Linked DNA regions of Homo sapiens. The protein of the gene in region 4 purifies or fractionates together with the protein of the main gene of each other region. This does not show direct contact. Each region holds a gene or a part of one and is shown on either strand. Other genes may lie near its edges.

Region 1 (4,419 bases), on a different chromosome or scaffold from region 4:
TGTGTTTTGTTATTGCTGATTTCCACAAATCACAGTCTTTGAATTTTTCAGTGGTTCCTACTACTTTGTGATTAGTATTGGATTTGGAGTACTGCAGGATTTTTTCAGGGTTCTTGCTCCACTCTCAGCTTTTAGCAAGTTCTGCACATATCTCTTTGTGCTCTCACTGGTAGTTTGCTGTTCCTTATACTTTATTCAAGACTTGGTGGGGAGGGTGGGACTAGGTTCTCTTGTTGTATCCCTAGTCAGGCAAGCCTGTGCACCTCAGTGTCAGGGTGAGTATTAATGATCTTGCCGCTCTCCCTCTCTCCCAGCCTGTCCCCACTGTCCTCAGCCTGGTATCAAAAGGGTGGAGCAGGATACTCAACAAAAGCAGACCTTTGCTTTGTAAGATCCTGGGTGCAAGCAGGTATCAGCCTCGTCCCAGTAGTAGATGGCTTTTTTTTTCCTACCTCTCTTTCAGTGGCAGCTGACCTTTGCAAGTGACCAAGGAGTGGTCACATTCCTACCCCTCACCCAGCAGCAGATGGTTTTTGTTTCTACCTCTCTCGCAGCAGCTGGGCTTTTCCTTGTGCAGGAGGTACGAGGGTTTACTTTTTAGATATTTAAAACTTATCCTCAAAGCTATCTATATAGCATATTTAAATTGTTGTTTTAGATGGTTAATTCCTGATGAACAAAGGCTGAATCTTAGACTTTCAGAGAAAGATGCCTACTGTTTGGTTTTTATTATAATTTGTCAATGTGTTTGTTCTTTTCCAGCTTAGGCTTGATTTCCGACTCTTTTCACATGTTTTTCGATAGCACTGCCATTTTGGCTGGACTGGCAGCTTCTGTTATTTCAAAATGGAGAGATAATGATGCTTTCTCCTATGGGTAAGACTTTAAGAAAAAAAATCTTTTTATTGAAGTATAAGATATACACAAAAAAACACTAATCTTAAGCTCAGTGACTTGTTACCAATTGAACACAGGTGTAACTTTTGAATCTTTGAAGCCCCCACTCAGGCCTCTTCGAGTTCCTACCTCCCCAAGGGTAACCACTTTCATGACTTCATGGATGAGTTTTTGAATAGTATATAATTGGAATCTACAGTAATTTGTTGAGATTGTTACCATATAGAGGAATTTCTCAACTTTTTTTTGAAGAAGAAAGTTTTAGTATATGAAAATAGGATTTTTTTTTGCTTTTGCTTTTTTCTTTTTGAATGGATACTTTGCTGTTGATTTATTTAAAATCATTTTCTAATATGGTTTTATATTATGTTCTTTAGCTCTGCTTTTATGTAACAGTTCTTATATGCTTGCCGAGTTGGACAATTAATCAAATATTTGTAGAGCATCTGTATGCTGAAGGGACTACATTGGATCATCTTAGAGGCATAATTTGATTTCTGCCACCTCTGATTGGAGGAAGCAGTGGATTTTTCATTATTTGATTACACTGCCTGAGTGTTTCCTTTTTTGAGTTCATAGAATATTTTGCAGTATAGCTATATATATGTGTAAGCAGAGCTCAGGATGCATACTCTGTTTCTTTCTCTTCCCCACCCCTTTGTCTTTCCTATTCCCTCTCTCTTCTGCTTTCTTACTAATTCTTCCCCTCTGTCCTTTTCCTCCTCTTCTCTTCATTTCCCCTGTGAGTGCTCTTTTACATTCTCTTCCTTCTTCATCTGTCTCTCATATTTTCTGTCTCTCACTCTTGTTCCCTTCCTCAGCCTCTTACTCTCTCTTATCTTCTCCTGAACTCCCTTTTCCTTCTCTTGTCTTTGCTTCTTGTCGCTTGGGCTTGTGCTCATGCTCTTTTTTCCTCTCTCTTCCTTCTTCTGTCCCCCTATACCTTTCCTGTCTTATTCTTTGTTTTCTCCTGCTCTTTTCCTTTACCTTTTAACCCTTTATCTGTCAGGCTCAATCTCTCCTCCTCCTCTTCTCTTAACTTCTTTAGCTCTATTTCTTTTTTGTCTCCCTTTCCAAGTCTCTCTTTCCTTCCTTCACTGATTCTCCTTCCCTGAGCTCTCCCTTTCCGGTGCAGTTTCTCTCACTCTCTCCCTGTCCTTTTTACAGCCATCTTCTTTCATGTACTGTCTCTTAGGCCTCTTGTTATGTCTTTTACTCTCTGTCCTTAACTGCTCCCCCTTTCTCCCTGGCTTGGCTTCTTTCTTTAGCAGGCACACACTCTTTCTTTCACATGCTCTTGTTCTGTTTAGATATTTATTGAGGGTCCATATGAGTCAAATACTTTTCTAGTTCTAATGATGTAAAAATGATCTAATGATGTAAAAACATGCCTCCTGCCTTGCCGGAACTTGTCTCTTGGGCAAACAGTTCTGTAAAAATACAATAATAGCTATATATTGTGACAGTTGCCAAAAAGGAGATGTGGAGTTCTGTGGCAGAACTTGCTGATTTTAGTTATAAGCAAGGGATATGGTTATTTTTGAAATTATAAAAAGTGAGCCAAAAAATACTCATTGTACATTTTATAGTATAGAGCAGTAGATCCTATATATCTATAAATTCAAACAGCTTGACAGCTCAGATAAGAACGCTTTTTATGGCATGATATTGGTGATATGCAAATAATTTAAACAGTAGCTACTAAAAGATTCTTAAGTATATTTTAGATTATTAAAGAAAGATTATATCCAAAGTTATAATTTTTGTTGGAAAATTAGTAATTTATTTATATTATATATCAGAAATCTAATTAGAATAGCTTATTCTACAATCTTTCTGAATAAACAGTAGCTGACTATTGAAAATTCTCAGTTCTTTAACGCTTAGATTTTCTATTGTTTCCAATTTAGAATGTATTGTCTCCTGCTCTAAAATGGTTTTTAGAAATAGCTTTGAATACCTTCAGTACCATAGCAGATTTTAATGTTCAGCTTTAGCTAGTTGATGTAAGAGAATAATATTCTTTCCACCTTTAATTTAATCCTCTCCTCTCTTTATGTGTGTGTGTGTGTGTGTGTGTGTGTGTTTTCTTTTGGGAAAGATTAAAGAATAAAAGCTGGTACAATATTTAACACTATGAATAATTGGTATAGTAATAAGTAGCTTCATTTGTAAACTACTGGTGTCAGTGAATCAAAATGACACTGATTAATTCATGTTAAGCATAGGGTTGAATTCTCATAACCTCCCACCCCAATTCAGGATGACTGCTGTAGCTGACTGACTCTGCAATAGAAGAAAGAGTTGGGGAATATGAGAGCAAGCAAGGACTTTTAAGTATTTCTTTATATAAAAGTCATCTTTGTGTCTTGCCACACTCTTATTTTTTAAAGAGCAAAGACAGCTTAAAAGTAATATACATCCAGTAGGTAGATAGATACATACATACATGCGTATATACATATGTACCTATACTTAAATCTTTTCTATTTTTCTTCCTGGCTCAAGAATCTAAACACTAGCCATACTTAATTAGGCAACAGCACATTCATGAATTACATGTTCTAATTCTAAGACCTACTCAATCTGTTAAGTAAACACAGATATTTGTAAAGGCAAATGTGTTTAGTTTTCATGTGTTTTTGTTTTGAGCCCACAACCAAGTTTAACAAATATATCTTAAACTCAAGCTAATTAAATCACTCCAACATTTTATCTGAACTTAGATAGCACACCTACTAAGCTAGGAATTAGAAACAAAAAGATGCCTGAAAAACATTCTTGCCTTTGATCTTGAAATCTGGTAGAAGTCAAGCACAAAAGGTTTTCAGTCAAGCATTAGTTATGGGACTACAAGGGTAGATTAAAAGAAAATACTTTTTACTTTTGGATAGTAACCCTGCTGATTTATTAGATAAATTCCTAAGTGTAGGCTGTGGAATGCTGGTTGCAAATTATTTGAATTTAATGAACTTTTCTCCAGGAAAAAAAAATATGTTTTGACAAGTAATACGTTATTTGGATGTGTTAGAAGATAGAAATATGCATTATTTCTGGCATAGAAATACATACTATGTTGGAATGCACTTGACAGGACAAACTCCAACATAACTTGATAGAGTACATTTTCAAGAATTCTCTTTAAAAATATTTTTACAGTAAAAATCGTTATTACCTAGAAGTTAACATAGAAACCTAGGAAAAGCACGAGTTTTGATGCTCTCATTATATTGTTTAAGGACCAGAGTGGTTAATTGCTGTTAGCACCCTTTGAATGATGTTTGAACATGTAAAAATGCTAAGTTAAAGTTGTTTCTGATGACTTTAACTAAGCCAAATATACGATACAGAAAAATAAAATCTTTCCCCAATGCTTCACACAGGTAGGAAGCAGAAAGCTTCAGAACTCAATGGAACAAAAGACAGGTATTTTAAAAATAGTTTAATTAGAATTATGTGAAGCTAAAATTGATTCTAAAAATAGGTAATTGAAAGTTTATGCTAGATTTATTAATCTTAGAA
Region 2 (5,148 bases), on a different chromosome or scaffold from region 4:
AAGAAAAGGATATATATAACCTGGTTTTTGGCCTCTAAAAATGTATGCTCATGGAGTAGACAAGATTTTTAAAAAGAATTATTCAATAACATAAGAAGCATGTAAAAATAAAACATATTTCTCTGGTGAAACAGAACCTAAAAAATATATATAACATACTAAATTGTAAACTGGAATTGCCACAGGTCTTTCATTAACTTACCTACTGTAGGGACGGCAGGCACAGTCTCCCCCAGCTTCAATTTATACAAGATGGTGGTTTTTCCAGCTGTATCCAAACTCAATATAAGAATCCGCATCTTTTTTTTCCCAAGTAGACTTTTAAAGAGCTTTTCAAAAATGTTTCCCATTGTAATTTAATCGAATTCTGTAACATGACAAGAAAAGCAAGCCAAATAATTGTTCTCTGCAGAGATATAGAAGCAACACGCAGAAAATACAAGTGTCAATTAGAAATGGCTCCCAGGAAAAATTCAACAATTTTAGGTACACTTTGGCCAATGAGTAGTGAGTCTTGTCTTCAAAGGGAAACTCAACTAAACCTTTCCATGCCTTACCAGAAAATTCTATTTTCCACTGCAGCATCCAAGAGGGATATGCAACATAGCCTCAGCACTGCTATGACAGTGGCAGCCTTTAGTCATTTAGTACAGAAGTACAAGGCCAGGTGCGGTAGCTCACGCCTGTAATCCCAGCACTTTGGGAGGCCAAGGTGGGTGGATCACCTGAGGTCATGGGTTCAAGACCAGCCTGGCCAACATGGTGAAACCCCGTCTCTACTAAAAACACAAAAATTAGCTGGGCACGGTGGTGCACGCCTGTAGTACCAGCTACTCAGGATGCTAAGGCATAGGAATCACTTGAACCTGGGGAGGCAGAGGTTGCAGTAAGCCAGGACCACGCCACTGCACTCTAGTCTGGGCAACAGAGCAAGACTGTCTCAAAAAATTAATTAATTAATTAATTTTTTTTAAAAAACAAGTACAGAAGCAATGATACAACAAATACAACTATACCTCATTCTAAATTCTACTGAAATGAGAATTTATGAAACAGAGAAGCTTTTTATTTTATGCAATATAAAACAAAGTCTTTAAGACAGGTTAAACAACAATATCCCTTGGAAACGTAGTAGTTCCTTATGGCTAGCAGACACCTTGGAAATAACCTAAGAAATTTCAGAGGCAAAGAAATTCAGCGTTGGGAAGCTTCACTGCCAAGAGAGATAACTTGGCAGAGTTGAGGAGGCACCACAGCATCCAGTTTTCGTTTGAGTTTTTTGTTTTGTTTTGAGACAGGGTCTCGCTCTGTCACCCAGGCTGGAGTGCAGTGGCACAATCACGGCTCACTGCAACCTCAACCTCCCCATCTCAAACAATCCTCCCACCTCAGCCTCTGGAGCAGCTGCGACCACAGGCATACGCCACCTCGCTCAGCTAATTTTTGTATTTTTTGTGGAAATGAGGTCTCACTATATTTCCCAGGCTAATCTCGAACCCCTGGGCTCAAGTGATCTTCCCACCTCAGCCTCCCAAAGTGCTGGGATTACAGGCGTGAGCTACCAGGCCCAGCCAGTATCCAGTGTTCTATTGCTGTAACTATCACCTTACTCTCAACCAGTTCTTAGAACTTTTTATTTAAGTATAATTTACATACAGATATAAACATACATGATAACTGTAAAGTTCAATACATTTTCATGAACCAAACACACCTATGTAACCAAATCAAGAAAAGATGATTTATCAGGCTGGGCACAGTGGCTCATGCCTGTAATCCCAACACTTTGGGAGACCAAGGTGGGTGGATCACCTGAGGTCAAGAGTTCGAGACCAGCCTGGCCAAAATGGTGAAACCCCGTCTCTACTAAAAATACAAAAATTAGCTAGGTGTAGTGGCACACACATGCAGTCCCAGCTACTCAGAAGGCTAAGGCACAAGAATCACTTGAACCTGGGAGGTGGAGGTTGAAGTGAGCCAAGATTGGGCCACTGAACTCCAGCCCAGGGCAACAGAGTGAGACTCCATCTCAAAAAAAAAAAAAAAAAAAAATGATTATCAGACCAATTCTCCTTGTGCCTCCTCCCAGTCATTACTCCATAAAAGGTAATCACTATATTGACTTCTAACAGCATAAATGTTCAATATTTTATTTTTCAGTAGAAATCATGGTAGGTTATATAAAGTAAGTCAATAGTAAAGTCAGACTAACTTACAGAAATTTACAGTCTCTTTGAGATCAGCCTACTTGAAATGTGAGCTTGACATTCTAAGTAAAGACTTACAAGCAGTGCTGGGTCTACACCTCTAACTAAGCTCTTGGAAGTCTGTAAAGATCTTCAGACCAGGCAGGGTGGCTTACCCCTGTAATTCCAGCACTTTGGGAGGCTGAGGCAAGAGGGTCACTTTAGTTTTTGCTTACTGAGATAACAGAAGACAAGGGAGGATTGCTTTAGGCCAGGAGTACAAGACCAGCCTGGGCAACATAGCGAGACCCTGCCTCTATTTTTAAAAATAATAAAACAAAAAAAAATTCAAAAAGAAAAAGACATACATCCTTGTTCCAGAGACTGTGATTTATTTTCTTTTTAAATTGCTAACCAAAGAAAGCTTTACTCCTGGGCAGGGGAGGAGGAAGACACAAGGAGGATAGCCAATCTCCCATTCATTCGGACTCTGGTAACCACAGAGCGGAGGTAACCAAATTCCACAGGCCTCACCGCTGAAATTCAACAGTGGCCAGCAGTAGCTTAATATCATGGATTACGCCCAAGTACACAACATTCCTTTCTAGGATGAGAGAAAGCGAGCACAGAATTTATCCTGTTCACAAATGTGGCGTAAGTGACCAAAGAATGATAAATGTTTTAATCATTCAAAGAAAGTCCATTATAGGTCTATAAAAGTCCAGTGCATTGCAGCACTCAAAATCTTGCCGGGCGACAAAACTAGAGATTCCTTTTCTTTGTTTCGAAAAACAAATCTCACAGATGAGGAGACTTTTCAGGAACATGCTGGGGGAGGGAAGGTACTTCCCGCTCAGATGCCCCTTGAGGCAGCTAGTCCCAATTCCCCCTGCCAACCGCACAGACACACCACCTTGACCTCCCTCTCCCTTCTCTTTCCTCTTATTGCTACTCATGTGCCCCAGGCGCCCGTGGTCCTGACACCCCTGCGCCGCTGGAGACCCCTCTAAGGTAAGATGGCTCCGACTACAGGGCCTTTTTGGCACGCTCAGTCTCCCAGCCCCAAGCGCCAAAAGTGCATTAGGGAGAAACGTCGGCACGACGTCAAGGGCGCGAACAAGCGTGGTGGCCCAGGTGAGCGTGCGCGGCAGCCAGGCACGCCCGGCTCCCGGGGAAAGACGCCCCTTTTTTGCCCCGGCTGCCAGGCCGCTCCTTCTCAACTTGTGCGCCCCTGGAAGAGCAAAGAGAGGGCCCTGCGTGGAACCTATGAAGCCTCCTTCGGTTCCTCGCTGCTCCGGCCCTAGAGAGGGCGAAGAAGGAACAGCGGAGCCCAATCCCTTTCCGAAAGCCACCGCCGCCCTCCAGTTTCTGGCCCGCAGACGAAGTGGAGATCCAGCCAGGTCTTGAGTGCTGCCGCCCCATCCCTGCAGCCGGAGACTCACCTGTTGCCACTCAAGGTACCGCTACCTACAACACCGCCGACTCCGCGGCCTTTAGGATTTCAGCTCAGTTCAGCTAAACCACGACAGGCGTGGGGGCAGGAACAGCAACCAACCAATCACCCACCGCCTCCTGGAGCTTTTGCACCAATGAGCTCGAAGTTTTGTGAGTGACGACATATCTGGCCAACGCAAAGAAGAGTAAGGGCCTGGGAGGGAGGGAGCGCCGTAGGCGACGCCATGAAGCTCTGGCAATACCATGTTCATCTTCAAATCACAGTTAAACGAATTCTGGCGAGACACGCCCACGTCCCCCACCCCCGATGCCATGTGCGACCAATCAGAAAAGCAAAAGGATTGTCTATTTGCACGGCCAATCAGCTGGGAAAATCGCCGAGGTTTGAGCTAACCTCGGAGCGTTCACACCAACCGGGAGGGGACATGTGGGCCGGGCCAAGTTAATAGTGCCATGGAAGGAAATTTACCGCGGTTGAGTTAAACGTAGACATTAGTTTGGGGCGGTGTTCCGCGTAGGAAATACCACACACTGACACTGAAATTAGGCATAAGGAAGTTTTCCTATTCCGCCTGAGGCTAGACTGCCCTCCCACCTCTACACAGATTTTCAAGTTGGGGAAAATACTGGCCACCCGCACCTCGTTAAGACGTCGCAGAACCAGTCCTCGTTTCCGAGAAATGCTTTCTATAGTCAGTTCCCTAAATGCCCAACTTGTTAGCTAAAAAGGTTACAAACGCCTGTAAATGGTACATAACTGAAATCATCAGAACAACAAACATCTATTAAACATATACTATGTGCCAGAAACTATATCAAGAACTTCAGCAGGCCCGGCGCGGTAGCTCACGCCTGGAAGGCCAAGGCTTTGAGCTAGGAGTTCGAGACCAGCCTGAGCAACATGGCAAAACCCCATCTCTGCAAAAAAAAACAAATTTAAAATTAGCCGGGCATGGTAGCGGCTGTAGTCCCAGCTACTCGGGAGGCTGAGGCAGGAGGATCACTTGAGCCCAGGAGGTAGAGGCTGCAGAGAGCCGTGATCACGCCACTGCACTCCAGCCTGGGTGACAAAGCGAGACCCTGTCTCAAAAAACACGAACAAAAAAAGTTAGAAGATACTGCTAGAATTGACTAAATAAATAAATAAATAAATAAGAAAAACAATGTTACCTGCAGGACCGTAACGCCCAGTGAATTACAAACTATTATCCCTGGCCAGACGTGGTGGCTCACACCTGTAATTCCAGCACACTGGGAGGCCGAGGCGAGCAGATCACCTGAGGTTGGGAGTTCGAGACCAGCCTGACCAACATGGAGAAACCCCATCTCTACTAAAAATATAAAATTAGCCGGGCGTGGTGGCACACGCCTGTAATCCCAGCTACTTGGGAGGCTGAGACAGGAGAATTGCCTGAACCTGAGAGGCAGAGGTTGCAGTGAGCCAACATCGTGCCACTGCACTCCAGCCTAGACGATAAAGCAAGACCCTGTCTCAAAAAAAAAGAAA
Region 3 (4,419 bases), on a different chromosome or scaffold from region 4:
AGCTTAGGCTGGGCATGGTGGCTCACGCCTGTAATCCCAGCACTTTGGGAGGCCGAGGTGGGCAGATCACCTGAGGTCAGGAGTTCCAGACCAGCCTGGCCAATATGGTGAAACCCCGTCTCTACTAAAAATACAAAAATTAGCCGGGAGTGGTGGCGGGTGACTGTAATCCCAGCTGCTCGGGAGGCTGAGGCAGGAGAATCTCTTGAACCCAGGAGGTGGAGGTTGCAGTGAGCCGAGATCGCCCCACTGCACTCCAGCCTGGGCATCCCAGCAAGACTCAGTCTCAAAAAAAAATTTAAAGTAACTACATGCAGTGGCTCATGTCTGTAATCTCAGAGATTTGGAAGGCTGAGGTGGGAGAACTGCTTGAGGCCAGGAGTTCAAGACCAGCTAGGCAACATAGTGAGATCTCAGCTCTACAAAAAATTTTACAAATGAGCTAAGTATAGTGGCTTGCACCTATAGTCCTAGTTACTTGGAAGGCTGAGGTGGGAGGATCACTTGAACCCAGGAGTTGGAGATTGCAGTGAGCTTTGATTGTACCACTGCACTACAGCTGGAGCAACACAGTGAGACCCTAACTCTAAAAAAAATAAATAGGCCGGGCCCGGCGTAGTGGCTCACATTTGTAATCTCAGCACTTTGGGAGGCCGAAGTGGGCGGATCACCTGACGTCAGGAGTTCGAGACCAGCCTGACCAACATGGAGAAACCCCATCTCTCCTAAAAATACAAAATTAGCCAGGCGTGGTGGTGCACGCCTGTATTCCCAGCTATTGAGGAGGCTGAGGTAGGAGAATTGCTTGAACCTGGGAGGCGGAGGTTGCGGTGAGCCGAGATTGTACCATTGCACTCCACCCTGGGCAACAAGAGCAAAACTCTGTCTCAAAAAAATAAAAATAGATAAAAAATAGGCCGGGCACGGTGGCTCACGCCTGTAATCCCAGCACTTTCGGAGGCCGAGGCGGGCGGATCACGAGGTCAGGAGATGGAGACCATCCTGGCTAACATGGTGAAACCCCGTCTCTACTAAAAAATATATAAAAAATTAGCCGGGTGTGGTGGCGGGCGCCTGTAGTCCCAGCTACTCGGGAGGCTGAGGCAGGAGAATGGCGTGAACCCGGGAGGTGGAGCTTGTAGTGAGCCGAGATCGTGCCACTGCGCTCCAGCCTGGGCGACAGAGTGAGACTCCGTCTCAAAATAAATAAATAAATAAATAAAAAATAAATAGGCCAGATGTGGTTGTTCACACCTGTAATCCTAGTAATATGGAAGGCTCAGGTGGGAAGACTGCTTGAGGCCAGGAGTTTGAAACCAGCCTGGGCAACACAGCAAGACCTCATGTCTATTAAAAATTAGCCTGGTGTGGTGGCACGCACCTGTGGTCCTAGCTACAGAGAGGCTGAGGCAGGAGGATTGCTTGAGCCCAAGAGTTTGAGGCTGCAATGAGACGAGATTGCACCACTGCACTCCAGCCTGGGCAAGACAACGAGACCTTGTCATTCATTTATTCACACATACATAACATTTTGTTTTAAACCCAGAACTTTGTTTTTAGGTTTGTATCAAGCAAAGTCATTAACGTTAGGTCAACACTGTTTTCTTTTTTTTTTTTCTGAGATGGAGTCTTGCTCTGTCTCCCAGGCTGGAGTGCAGTGGTGCGATCTCGGCTCACTGCAACCTCCGCCTCCCAAGTTCAAGCGATTCTCCTACCTCAGCCTCCAGAGTAGCTGGGATTACAGGCACGCACCTCCACACCCAGCTAATTTTTGTATTTTTAGTAGAGACAGGGTTTCGACATGTTGGCCAGGCTGGTCTCAAACTCCTGACCTCAGGTGATCCACCTGCCTCAGCCTCCCGAAGTGCTGGGATTACAGGTGTGAACCACCACGCCTTGCCTATTGTTTTCAAATATTGCCTTTGATTTTAAATAATGTTCCAAAGGTAGATTAATATTAAATTATATTAACAAAATATAATGAAAACATGTAATAATTACCTTTTATTTTTATTTTTATTATTTTTTTGAGACGGAATCTCACTGTCACCCAGGCTGGAGTGCAGTGGCGCGATCTCGGCTCACTGCAAACTCCACCTCCCAGGTTCACACCATTCTCCTGCCTTAGCCTCCCGAGTAGCTGGGACTACAGGCGCCAGCCACCACACCTGGCTAATTTTTTTGTATTTTTTTTTAGTAGAGATGGGGTTTACACCGTATTAGCCAGGATGGTCTCGATCTCCTGACCTCATGATCCACCCAGCTCGGCCTCCTAAAGTGCTGGAATTACAGGCATGAGCCACCACGCCCAGCCAATAATTACCTTTTAAAAGAGCCCTTTAATTGGCTGGGCACAGTGGCTCACGCCTGTAATCCCAACACTTTGGGAGACAGAGGCAGGCGGATCATGAGGTCAGGAGATCGAGACCAGCCTGGCTAACACGGTGAAACCCCGTCTCTACTAAAAATACAAAAAATAAATAAATAAATAAGTTAGTCGGGTGTGGTGGCACGTGCCTATAGTCCCAGCTACTTGGGAGGCTGAGGCAAGAGAATCGCTTGAACCTGGGAGGTGGAGGCTGCAGTGAGCCGAGATTGTGCCACTGCACTCCAGCCTCGTGACAGAGCGATACTCCGTGTAAAAAAAAAACAACAAGCCCTTTAACATGAATAAACGATGTAATTACACTTCTATTTAAGTTGTGGTTTTTCGGGGTTTTTTTTAAATTTAGAAACAGGGTCTCATTCTGTCACCCCAGCTGGAGTGCATTGGCAAAATCATAGCTCACTGCAGCCTTTGATCTCCTGGGCTCAAGCGATACTCCACCTCAGTTTCTTGAGTAGCTGAGACTACAGGCGCATGCCACCATGTCCGGCTAATTTTTAAATTTTGTTTTGGAGACAGCGTCTCACTATATTGCCCAGGCTGGTCTCAAATTCCTAGCCTCAAATGATCCTCTGCCCTGGCCTCTTAAAGCACTGGGATTACAGGGGTGAGCCACTACACTCAGTCCCCTTCTTTTTTTTTTTTTTTGAGACGGAGGCTCGCTATCGCCCAGGCTAGAGTGCAGTGGCGCGATCTCGGCTCACTGCAAGCTCTGCCCCCTGGGGTTCACGCCATTCTCCTGCATCAGCCTCCCACGTAGCTGGGACTACAGGCGCCCGCCACCTTGCCAGGCTAATTTTTTGTATTTTTAGTAGAGACGGGGTTTCACCGTGTTAGCCAGGATGGTCTCGATCTCCTGACCTCGTGATCCGCCCGCCTGGGCCTCCCAAAGTGCTGGGATTACAGGCGTGAGCCACCGCGCCCGGTCCCCCTTCTTAAAAATGTAGAAAACATCACCCCTTGCTCGATACATTGCTGTGAGAATCGAATGAAATATTAGTTTTGAAAACACCTGGTGTGGACCGGGTGCAGTGGCTCACAGCTCTAATCCTAAGCACTCTGGGAGGCCAAGGCAGGTGGATTGCTTGAGCTCAGGAGATGGAGATCAGCCTGGGCAACAACAGCCTGGGTGAAACTCTGTCTCTACAAAAAATTAGCTGGGTGTGGTGGTGTGTGCCTGTAGTCCCAGCGACTCAGTAGGCTGAGGTGGGAGGATGGCTTGGGTCCAGGAGACCAAGGCTGCAGTGAACCTTGATCACACCACTGCACTTCAGCCTGGGTGAGAGAAAGACCATGTCTCAAAAAAGAAGAAAAAAAAAAAGAAAACACCTGGTGTTAACAAAATACCTTAGCCTGAAAGAAGAAAGAAAGGAAGGAAAAAGAAAAAGAAAGGAGAGAGAGAAATAAAGAAAACACCTGGTGAATTCTTTAAGGCACAATGCAAAAGTTAGTTATTCACAATAGGAGAAAGACAATGCCTTCAACTTGATTCTCAGTCTTCTACATAGAGCTTCAGGGGCATCTCAGGACAGAATGGCAATTCCTTCTCCAAGGGTGACCTTTCTGTTTCCTTTGGGACAAAAATGCACACATTTGCAAAAGCCATGTCTAATTCTGTAATTTATTTTCTTTGCCTGATGATGACTGTAAAAAACAAAAACGAATATAACACTGTAATTCTGAGGGTGAAAGAGTCAACTGAAAGCCACTGCATGTGTAAATCCAACATTTATAATGCAGAAACGGTTTTCAGTAATCCAGATTCAGCCTCCACTTCCACACCATTCCCAATACAGACTCGATGACTCACATGGCAACGGCCACCTTCTGCAGCATCCCTCAGATGACACTGACCTTTTCTAGACAGAGGCCACACACCAGTCCAGTGGCTCAATACTCCTTACAAACTGGCCTGTTTTTCTAGAAAGCCCCCAAAGAACTGTGAAATGTGCCCCTGAGTACACCTGCGCTGAGCTCTTCAGTGTTATCACATGCTGGGAATAAAAGAGTTCTGTCAGAGAGCAGGCGTGGAA
Region 4 (5,339 bases):
GAAAAATTTCCACTTAAGTTACATAAAATTTGATGAAGAACATTTGTCAAATGTTAAGTTTTAGTCTATTCTTTAATAACACAGTGCAGCTCAAACTGTCATTGAATATAAGATCAGTTAAAAATTAAGGAAAGTATTTCAAAACAGGTTTCTAATTTGAACTGGGCAAACATTTTGATATAATGTTGAAGCTTTGATATGATGTTTTGATATCATAGTTTAGAGGGCGAGGGGAGCTGTGACAATTCTGTTTTTTGCTTGAAAGATTATCTTATATTCTCTGATTTTTTTCCTCTCTCGAATGTGTTCTAACAAGGCATACACAACAGTAGAAAAAATATATAAAAGAAAGGAAAGTGCGTCTTACTAAATTTAATAATTAATATTGTTGACATAAAAGTAAAAGGCAAGCTTAACTTTTGAAGGCTGACTCATGAAGAATTTTTTCATTAATCAAACACTGACTACATTTAAGCTATAAAATTTTCACATGGAATACTGAAACAATAATGTACCATGATTCTATCTCTAAATTTATTTTAAATTTAGAGCTTTCATATTTTATAGTTATTCTTTACCAGTTCAGATGTTTCTATATCTCTATATATTCATATAGAATTATAGATTTTATATTCATGTGTAATTAAGTCACAAAACTATGTAAAATAAAATTCTGTGTGAGTGATATGACTGATGACTTCTTAAAATAGTAATCTTCAATTACATATTTTACACCACAAAATGTACAGACACCCAGTTTTTTTCTAACAACAAATACAGGTGAATTTATCGATTCTTTATAAAAGCTTTAAGTGATTCTAAATTCAAAGTCATAGAAATAGAATCAGACTTATGCAGATTGTTAGATAGTTTGATAGTACATAGTCAGTGCTCTGTCTGATAACATCAATAGCTACATCTTTGGCATTGAAAATTCAATATGAGTTTTTGACAAAATTTTGTAGCTTAGAGCATCATTTTCTTTTAAACAAGGAAAAACACGGTTGAGTAAGATATGGAAATTGGGAGAAAACTATTAATGATTTTTTCTTAGTAAGTTTGTCTTTGGGACCCTGAATTACCTTTTATTTTATTGTATGATGTGGACTGTATGCATCCATTTAAAAACCAACTGAGTTGTACCACATTTTAGGAAAATTATATAATATAATATATATATTTTATATTTATTTAGAAGCTTTGAAATAGTACAGTAAACACTTTGCAACACGGTGTATAAACTACAGAATGTCTTTGATATTTTGTGGGTCTTCAGAATACAACATTTTTTATAACCCACAGGTGAAAAGAACATAATCACAATTTCTCTTGTAAAGTTGGAATAGCTTGCGGAACACTTGATCACACAAAAATAATATAAAACAGTCAAGTTTAAAACAGTGATATTGCATTTATAATGCACAAATTTCCTTTATCTTTATGACTGGCTTCTCGTGGTGAATATAAACATCTAAAGGGCTCAGTGACATTTGGAGAGAGAAAGATAGATAGTGCTGTAAACAGGCACACACTGATCGGGGAGGCAAAATCTGTTGCCTCTAAAGTTTCTACAGTTCTGCACATTTCAACTCATTTCTCAGGCCTGCTGAGAGCAATTAGGTCCTATAATTGGCCATGATGACTCCATCCGAAATCTAATACTCAGTTACACATGACTAACTGGATGGCCAAGATAATGAAGTTGAAAAGTTGATGCTTTTGTTGGTCGACTTTGTGCAAATCATGCTGCTTCAGGTAAGTCCTGTAGAATTGACTAGCATATCCTTTTCCGTGCTGTGAAAAAGAAAGAAAAATACTCTAAGAAAAAGAGGTTGACTTTTGGAGTTTAGAATTACACATTATTGTAAAAGAAAGAATACAGTTAGAAACTAGTTGTACCCTCATACCAAACACATGTAGTGTCAAACTTTTTCACTGCTAGTAGTCACAGCCATTCTGTTGTTTGGTTTTCTGAGAATGATAATTTTGATATTCTTATAAATTAGTTTTGCATGGGAAATGTACATTTTATATACCAAAGATGAAATTTGTGAAGATTAACTTTTTAAAGTTATCTACATAAAACAATCCCTACACTTCACTATTTATGCACAGAGTATAGAAAAAAATGTGTGGCCCTTACATTTCTAGAAAAAGTTTCTAGCAAAATCTATAAATAACTTGTTTTATATTTAATTTCATAAACTATAAATTATACATATTAAACCAATATTTATTATGGAAAACTGTACCAGAAAGTGTTTATGTAGTTAAATAATTTAAAGATGACTCACATTTTCTAGGTTTATTTAATCTCATTTATAAAATTTTAAAACCAAGTATTTTTATGGCCCATACATTTTTTTAAAGTATTCTTACTATGAGAATCCATTTTCTCATAAAGGAATTAATAAAGGCAAAGGGGAGAAAGATATTATCAAATTTGCTCTAGTTGTATAAAATATATTAAATTACAAAGCAGAATGCCCAGATTTGATTGCCCAGATTTCATAATTTTAAGTATTTTGTTTATTTGTAATGATAAATAATATTTCTTCCCTTATCCATAAACTTTGTAATATTTGACCATAAGCACAATGAGAGCAGAAGTTGCATCATATCTATCAGTATATGGCACATAACAGACATATAACAAAAATGTGTTGAAAATAAAGCTAGTTGAATTTAGATTAAATTTTCACATATCTCATTAAAAGTTACAAAGTACATTAAATAGCAAAACAATTATTTTAATCTCATAAATGGTTGCTTTTTTTAAACAAAGATAAGAACATGTTGATCTTCTCAACCTTATTCTCTGGTATTTCAACTCATTTCAAGACTATCTAATTATCTATTTATCCTAATTTATTTTTCCTCAAAAGCTCAGTTTCTGACCATGAAACAGTTCTTTACTAGTTCACCATTTAGCAGGCACATCAATCAAAACCATAGCAGTCGGCCGGATGTGGTGGCTCTCGTCTGTAATCCCAGCAATTTGGAAGTCCGAGTTGGGTGGGTCACCTGAGGTCAGGAGTTTGAAACCAGCCTGGCCAACATGGTGAATACCTGTCTCTACTAAAAGTACAAAATATTAGCCTGGCATGGTGGTGGGCGCCTATAATCCCAGCTACTTGGGAGGCTGAGGCAGAAGAATTGCTTGAACCCAGGAGGCAGAGGTTGCAGTGAGCTGAGATCATGCCATTGCACTCCAGCCTGTGAGACAAGAGCGAAACTCCATCTCAAAAAAAAAAAAAAAAAAAAAAAAACCCATAGCAGTCAGGCACCATCATCAACAGAAATGAAAGTGAAAATAAGTATCTACATGTATTGTGTAGTATAATAACTAGTATTGAAAGTAATCAGAACATATTTTGTAATGTATGATATCCAGAAGAATAAAATGAATTCGATACAATATATGGTAGTCATTATAACCAGGTCATAATATTCCAGAGAATATTCTACAAGTAAACGGAATTATTATTTTAATAGAATGAAATCCTATTTTTCTGTGTCCTTGAGTTCAAACTGTTTCATGAGAAACTTATATGTGAAATAATTCAAACAAATTTGTTTACACCAATCAGAATTGAAAATTATACAATAAATTAGAATAGTGAAACCTTAGAAGTCCAAGTTTATAAAACAAATCAGAGCAAATCATTACGGTCACCAAATAATTTGTTGTCTAAACTGGACCCACTGGTGAGTGAAAAGAAACACTATTATTAATTACAAAAGATTTTGTGCTTTCTGGACAACCCAGGAAAATATTGTCACCGACAAATAATATTACTCCTTTCAAAATAAGCTGGGTTGGGGCCTTTCCTGTTAATAGTAAAAATCAGAAAATGCTGATTTAGAGGAAACATTCTTTTCTTAGTTCAAGAACAAAAGAAACTCAGGAGTGACCTATAGTCAACCTATAACTAATTCATTATGTCAAAAAACTAATATACTGAAAAACTATGTTTTAGTATAAATTCAGAAAGTAGTCAACATAGCATATGTTTAGAGTAATAAAAATATCATTTCTAGTTCTTATGGCTTAAAGGCCATTAACATAAATATTATGTGTTCACTTGATTTAGTTAGGATACAAACAGAAATTGTTTCTTTTTAATAAAAGAAATTATTAAAATGGTTCACAGTTTTAAGAACACAGAAGCTTAGCACACATTATACTCAATATCTTAAATATAAACATAAACTTAAAAGACATCTTTTAATTGCTGCTTAGAGTTACGTGTTTTCTTTTTTAAAGTTCACCTATTGTACTTGTTGTCTGAATAATATAATCACCTATTATTAAATTTACTTCCTCCCACCTATGTGTTAATTCAGTAATGCAGATTTGGATAGGACAAATATAAGATCTGAACTTAGATCTGATCTAAGTTCCGAAGGTCAGAATTAATTAGATTGAGGAAGGAAGATTTCCTCCATGTTAGAAGAAGCTAATCTTACATTTATGAAGAGTTATCCCTCAGTGTCTGTGAGGGCCTGTTTCCAGGTTGCCCCCAAAATCGAAGGATGCTCAAGTCCCTTATGGCCTGTAGTGTATGCATATATCCTATGCATGTCCTCCTAAATATGTTAAATTATCTTCAGGTTACTTACAACATCTAATATAATGCCTAACACCAGGCACATCACTTCATTCACATAAATTCAAGGCAGTACTCTGTGCATGGCAAATTCAAGTTTTGCTTTTTGAAACTTTGTGGGACTTTTTTCCAAATATTTTTAATCCACAGTTGATTGAATCCACAGACAAGGAGCCCAAGGATACAGAGGAGCCAAAAATCCTGCCAACCTAGAAATAGTTTATACTATTACTAAAGTTTTAGTCACATCCGCTTTATTTCAAACCTTCTACGGGTTGAGTTTAAACACTGAATAACTATTATTCTTGGCTGGGCACGGTGGCTCAGGCCTGTAGTTCCAACAATTTGGGAGGTTGAGGCGAGCGGATCACTTGAGCCCAGGAGTTTGAGACCAGCCTGACAAACATGTCAAAAGACCATCTCTACTAGAAATACAAAAGTTAGCAGGGTTTAGTGGCACAGGCCTGTAATCCCAGCTACCTCGGAGGCTGAGGAACAAGAATTGCTTGAATCTATGAAGTGGAGGTTGCAATGAACTGAGATCTTGCCACTGCACTCCAGCCTAGGAGACAGAGCAAGGCTCTGCCTCAAAAAACAAACAAAACCTATTATTCTTTTAGGGTTGTATGGCCTAATGTTGGACAAGTAGCAAGCAAATATTATCTGACCCTCCCCACAAAAAAAATATTAATTGATGACATTTTAGAGCCAGTACCAGGACAATTATTC

What was found. Proteins that work in one complex are often made in the same cells at the same time.
Region 1: the proteins of PCDH10 (region 4) and SLC30A7 purify together in Homo sapiens (affinity purification with mass spectrometry; one large-scale study listed by BioGRID and IntAct). This does not show direct contact.
Region 2: the proteins of PCDH10 (region 4) and ARL17A purify together in Homo sapiens (affinity purification with mass spectrometry, with the first as the bait; one large-scale study listed by BioGRID). This does not show direct contact.
Region 3: the proteins of PCDH10 (region 4) and SHMT1 purify together in Homo sapiens (co-immunoprecipitation; one large-scale study listed by IntAct). This does not show direct contact.

The regions. Positions count from the first base shown.
Region 1 is NC_000001.11:100,906,090-100,910,508, forward strand, and holds part of SLC30A7 (zinc transporter 7), read left to right. Parts: intron 1-762; coding exon 763-876; intron 877-4,419. UniProt on the Homo sapiens protein: Zinc ion transporter mediating zinc entry from the cytosol into the lumen of organelles along the secretory pathway.
Region 2 is NC_000017.11:46,575,973-46,581,120, forward strand, and holds the start of ARL17A (ADP-ribosylation factor-like 17-like), read right to left. Parts: upstream 3,720-5,148; 5' UTR 3,629-3,719; intron 368-3,628; 5' UTR 351-367; coding exon 203-350; intron 1-202.
Region 3 is NC_000017.11:18,349,132-18,353,550, forward strand, and holds part of SHMT1 (serine hydroxymethyltransferase, cytosolic), read right to left. Parts: intron 1-4,419. UniProt on the Homo sapiens protein: Interconversion of serine and glycine.
Region 4 is NC_000004.12:133,186,596-133,191,934, reverse strand, and holds part of PCDH10 (protocadherin-10 isoform 1 precursor), read right to left. Parts: intron 1,795-5,339; coding exon 1,775-1,794; 3' UTR 1-1,774.